Linked DNA regions of Homo sapiens: region 2 is linked to region 1. Evidence: fine-mapped expression QTL. A gene starts in region 1. The other region holds a variant in brackets. All regions are shown on one strand. Distances are from middle to middle.

Region 1 (2,906 bases):
CTCTGGTAATGAGGTTTGGAAATGAACCAATTGTGGGGTCGGGGGAAAGCTACCTAGGTGCTTCTAATGTGCAGCTAAAGTTGAGAACCACTGATCTACAGTGAAAATACAGGCAGGGCCGGGCGCGGTGGCTCACGCCTGTTTTCCCAGCACTTTGGGAGGCCGAGGCGGGCGGATCACCTGAGGTTGGGAGTTCGAGACCAGCTTGACCATCATGGAGAAATGTCTCTACTAAAAATACAAAATTAGCCGGGCGTGGTGGCGCATGGCTGTAATCCCAGCTACTCCGGAGGCTGAGGCAGGAGAATCGCTTGAACCCGGGAGGCGGAAGTTGTAGTGAGCTGAGATCGTGCCATTGCACTCCAGCCTGGGCAACAAGAGCGAAACTCCGTCCCCCCCCAAAAAAAAATATATATATATATGTATGTATATATATACATATATATATGCATGCCTAGTTTCAAAAGTGGCTTTCAACTCCAGAATCAAGTAGGGACTTTAACAAGAAACTGACGATCTGGGGGAGTAGGAAAGGTTTTCTAAATTCACCTGGGAATTAGCTCGCAAAGAGCCCTCCACAAAACTTAACCCTAAAGCCGCCATTAATTTCCAACATTCCTCAAAGTCTTGTACTTCTTAATCTCCCTACCATCCTCAAAGCCCTGTCAAGACTTCCACTTCTGCTCTACCCGCCAAGTTTCCTTTTTATCCTATCAAACCCCAACCTCCATCAATCCCGCCACCAGGTTCCAGTTCAGCCCCTCCCCCGCCCCTTCGCAGGGGCTCCGCCTCCTCCCCGGGGCCTCCACGCTCCAACACCGTAGCTATGTCCACATGCCACCACCCCCTTTCCGCGTCCGCCGGCCCCTTCCGCTCCTCAAGACCGCACCTCCCCCGGCTCCTTCTCACTACCGAAACTCACCGAAGGAAACAGACGCCAGTGCTCCTCCCGGGGCTGCCACCACGGCTCCGGCAGGCGGGCCGGGGACCGGCCGAACCTGAGTTGACGGTGGAGGGGCTCGGGTTAGCTAGATGGGCGGTTGGTTAGATGCGTAAGCGGTAGTATGCGAGCTCAGTTCGTTGTTGCTGGTTGGCTGTCTAGTCGGCCGATCCGTCTGCTCACCCGGCCTGCCCTTTCCTGCCTTTCGTCTGCAGCGGCCGCCAGCTCCTGCTCGGTGTCCAAAACAAAATGGCCGCCACGTCCAGTGCTTGTCTGACCGGCTAAAATGGCGTCTACGCAATTACGTCAGGCGTCAGATCCGCGCACGACTAGAGGGCGGGAAAGATTTGAGCTACGCCTGCGCAGAGGTCAGAGGCGGAGCCTTAGGGCGAAGGCGGGGCTTTCCATGCAGTGCCCCGCCCCTAGGGGCGTGGCCAATGGTCCTGTTGTTGGGGCGTGCCGGGGACTTCACGTTCCAGTAGTGGTTGCGCTGCAACCTCTTGGGGGTAGTTATTAATGTGGGCCTTAGAGGGGATTTGGGTCCCGAATTCCCTCGCCCCTCCGTTCCCTAGCCAAGGTACACCGTCTAAAAATCTTTACGCGGACTTGCCTCGTCTTCTTCCGGACAATTGGGCCTGGGGAATTTGCACTGGTTTTCCCCTCATGGCCACTCGCCCAGTCTGAGAGTTGTGAAGTGCCGTAAATGCTCCAGCCAAGGCCCAGGAGGCCAGTATTAGGAGCAAATTCCTCTCCCATCCTGCACCGGCCAACACCACCGCCCGTCCATGTTTTCCTCCTCACTTCCTCCCCTCCCCAACTTGGCCTAGATACTGTTTACTCCTTCTTGGGGTGGGGCACCTTTGCGTCCTCGATTGCGTTTCCATGTCCTCCCCCCACACCTGCCATCCGTGTTTATTTTGTTGCAGACCTACATAGGGATTTCTCTTTTCTCTCTCTGATTTGTTGTTGTTATTTTGAGACGGGGTCTGGCTCTGTTGTCCAGGCTGGAGTCAGTGGCGCAATGAATCACGGATCACTGCAGCCTTGACCTACTGGGCTCAGGTGATCCTCTCACCTCAGCCTCCCGACTCCTAGGATTATGGGCATAAGCTATGTTTCCTGCTCAATAAGGGATTTTTCTCTCTTTCTTTTTTTTTTCTTTTTGCAGATGGAGTCTCGCTGTGTCACCCAGACTGGAGTGCAGTGGTACCATCTCGGCTCACTGCAACCTCCGCCTCCCAGGTTCAAGCGATTCTCCTGCCTCAGCCTCCTGAGTAGCTGGAATTACAGGCGCGTACCACCATGCCCCGCTAATTTTTGTATTTTTAGTAGAGATGGGGTTTCACCAGGCTGGTCTCCAACTCCTGACCTCAAGTGATCTGCCCGCCTCTGTCTCCCAAAGTGCTGGGACTACAGTCGTGAGCCACTGTGCCCGGCCTCAATAAGGGATTTTTCTAATGACTATGTGCACAATACAGTGTACATATGTTTGAGGAATGAGAGAATGACACATCTGCAACCCTTCCTCTGCTCCACTGGCACGTCAAGACCCTTTCATTTTCCTTCCTGGCACTTGGGCGTGTGCGTGTGTGTATGTGTTTGTGTGTGTCTGTGTGTAAGTAATGGCCCAGCATCCTTACCCATGTGAGGGTAAGGATCGTGGTTATTTTGCTTAATGCTGGAGCCTCAGTTCCTACAGTGTTTACACATAGTACCACTTAAGTAAATGTTCGTTGATTGAAAGAAGATTCTTTCGGCCTAGCGCGGTGGCTCATGCCTGTAATCTCAGCACTTTGGGAGGCCGAGGCGGGGGGATCACGAGGTCAGGAGATCGAGACCATCCTGGCCAACATGGTGAAACCCCGTCTGTACTAAAAATACAAAAAATTAGCCGGGCGTGGTGGCAGGCGCCTGTAGTCCCAGCTGCTCGGGAGGCTGAGGCAGGTGAATCGCTTGAACCTGGGAG
Region 2 (2,906 bases), 51 kb after region 1:
TTTTTCTATTTTCTGGAAATTTAAGTTTGTATGATTTTTTTTTCTTTTTTTTTTTGGCTGACTTTTGTTTTTTTTTTTTTTAAATTTATTTATTTATTTATTTTTTAATTGATCATTCTTGGGTGTTTCTCGCAGAGGGGGATTTGGCAGGGCCATAGGACAATAGTGGAGGTAAGGTCAGCAGATAAACAAGTGAACAAAGGTCTCTGGTTTTCCTAGGCAGAGGACCCTGCGGCCTTCTGCAGTGTTTGTGTCCCTGGGTACTTAAGATTAGGGAGTGGTGTTGACTCTTAATGAGCATGCTGCCTTCAAGCATCTGTTTAACAAAGCACATCTTGCACCGCCCTTAATCCATTTAACCCTGAGTGGACACAGCACATGTTTCAGAGAGCACAGGGTTGGGGGTAAGGTCACAGATCAACAGGATCCCAAGGCAGAAGAATTTTTCTTAGTACAGAACAAAATGAAAAGTCTCCCATGTCTACTTTCTACACAGACACGGCAACCATCCGATTTCTCAATCTTTTCCCCACCTTTCCGCCCTTTCTATTCCACAAAACCGCCATTGTCATCATGGCCGGTTCTCAATGAGCTGTTGGGTAGACCTCCCAGACAGGGTGGTGGCCGGGCAGAGGGGCTCCTCACTTCCCAGTAGAGGCGGCCGGGCAGAGGCACCCCTCACCTCCCGGACGGGGCGGCTGGCCGGGCGGGGGGCTGACCCCCCCCACCTCCCTCCCGGACGGGGCAGCTGGCCGGGCAGAGGGGCTCCTCACTTCCCAGTAGGGGCGGTTGGGCAGAGGCGCCCCGCACCTCCCGGACGGGGCGGCTGGCCGGGCGGAGGGCTGACCCCCCCACCTCCCTCCCGGACGGGGGTGGCTGCCGGGTGGAGACGCTCCTCACTTCCCAGACGGGGTGGCTGACGGAGGGAGGGGCTCCTCACTTCTCAGACGGGGTGGCTGCCGGGCGGAGGGACTCCTCACTTCTCAGACGGGGCGGTTGCCAGGCAGAGGGTCTCCTCACTTCTCAGACGGGGTCGCGGCCGGGCAGAGGCGCTT[A/C]TCACATCCCAGACGGGGCGGCGGGGCAGAGGCGCTTCCCACATCTCAGACGATGGGCGGCCGGGCAGAGACGCTCCTCATTTCCTAGATGGGATGGCGGCCGGGCAGAGACGCTCCTCACTTTCCAGACTGGGCAGCCAGGCAGAGGGGCTCCTCACATCCCAGACGATGGGCAGCCAGGCAGAGACGCTCCTCACTTCCCAGACGGGGTGGCGGCCGGGCAGAGGCTGCAATCTCGGCTCTTTGGGAGGCCAAGGCAGGCGGCTGGGAGGTGGTTGTAGCGAGCCGAGATCACGCCACTGCATTCCAGCCTGGGCACCATTGAGCACTGAGTGAACGAGACTCCGTCTGCAATCCCGGCGCCTCGGGAGGCCGAGGCTGGCGGATCACTCGCGGTTAGGAGCTGGAGACCAGCCCGGCCAACACAGCGAAACCCCGTCTCCACCAAAAAAATACAAAAACCAGTCAGGCGTGGCGGCGCGCGCCTGCAATCGCAGGCACTCGGCAGGCTGAGGCAGGAGAATCAGGCAGGGAGGTTGCAGTGAGCCGAGATGGCAGCAGTACAGTCCAGCTTCGGCTTGGCATCAGAGGGAGACCGTGGAAAAGGATTTTTTTTCTTATTTGGTAAACTTGTCTATGAAAACCATCAATTTTATCTTTGTTAGGTAGATTTATACTGCTAATCAATTTCTTTAATGATTATAGGTCTTCAGATTTTCTCCTTCTTAGTCAATGTTGGTCAGCTTTACATATAAATAATTTACATATATATAAAATTTACATATATATAATTTTTTTTCCTGCAAAGCTGCCTATTTCATCTAATTTAAAAAATGTCAACCTCAGCTTTAGCTGGGGGAATCCTGGTTAATCTGGTTTAAGAGTATAAGTCTTCAAAGTAATTTTGTTTTGCTTTTCCCAAGTGCCCCAAGGCCAAAACCAGTTTAGTATTACTTTTTATGTTGACTTCTTGGCTTTGGGGTTTTCTGAACCATTCCAGCCATGTAAACTAAAATCCCAAATCTGCATGAAGACAGGCCCAAGGTTAAAATTTCTCTAAGAAAACTTTCTCCATCCAGAGCCCAGGCGAAGACGTACAAGCTTCCTCGAAATCTCATTTTGCTCATGAGAGGTTTTTTCTTTCAGCCCATTCTTTCACCAAGAAAGTGGTACTTGGGGCACCTTGCTTCATGTAAGGTGGCTTTCGGATTCCCAGATACTTGCAGTTATAAGGACCCATCTCTTCACGATTGGTCCTTGAAAACTGAAGCCCCTTGTTTTCTGAGATTAGAAACCGTCCCTTCCCAAGAACAGCTGTAGCATTAACTCACGCCTAATTGGTTTTTAGTTTCCCCTTCGCTTTGGGCCTAGAAGGGTTTTCTTTACTTTAATGTGAACTTAGCTGTGAAATAAAAAAAGTATCACTGTCATGTTTTAACCAGATAGATTCTATTGCAGAAGCCCCTGTTGAAAATAAAAAAAAAAACCAAACAAACAAAAGAAAAAAAGAAAGAAAAGAAAAATAATCGATAGAAATGGAAGTCTAGCTATTTTTCCTTAACGCAATAACTTTATCAGAATATGTCCTGGCTTTGATAAGTCTGGATCATTTTCTTTTCTTAGAACATGATGTGCCTGGCTGGGAACAGTGGCTCACACCTGTAATCCCAGCACTTTGAGAGGCCAAGGTCAGTGGCGCACTTGAGCCTGGAGTTCGAGACCAGTCTGGGCAACATGAGGAAACCCTGTCTCTACAAAAAAATATTAGCTGGGCGTGGTGGCTTAATCCTGTAATCCCAGCACTTTGGGAGGCCGAGGCGGGCGGATTACCTGAGGTCAGGAGTTTGAGAC

Alleles and levels. Alleles are on the strand shown, and positions count from the first base shown. SD is a standard deviation of normalised expression in the study named.
In carriers of allele A in region 2, the expression in adrenal gland of the gene that starts at base 1,200 in region 1 tends to be higher than with C alone (small effect, 0.36 SD a copy in GTEx).

Evidence for each region. PIP is the estimated chance that this variant, and not a neighbour inherited with it, causes the effect. A credible set is the group of variants that fine-mapping cannot tell apart.
Region 2: its variant is the best candidate, but not a certain one, in a credible set for the expression of CHTOP in adrenal gland (GTEx, PIP 0.64).

What each region holds. Positions count from the first base shown.
Region 1 is chr1:153,632,360-153,635,265 of GRCh38, reverse strand. It overlaps CHTOP (chromatin target of PRMT1), which reads right to left and starts at 1,200. Exons shown (of 6, transcript NM_015607.4): 1 at 923-1,200. It also overlaps a transcript of S100A13 not described here. RefSeq lists a silencer at 697-776 and an enhancer at 1,117-1,226.
Region 2 is chr1:153,581,092-153,583,997 of GRCh38, reverse strand. No RefSeq gene overlaps it. Among named protein-coding and RNA genes, the nearest start is that of S100A2, 17 kb to the right of the region's middle. RefSeq lists an enhancer at 1-915. The variant A/C (reference allele first, on the strand shown) is at 1,056.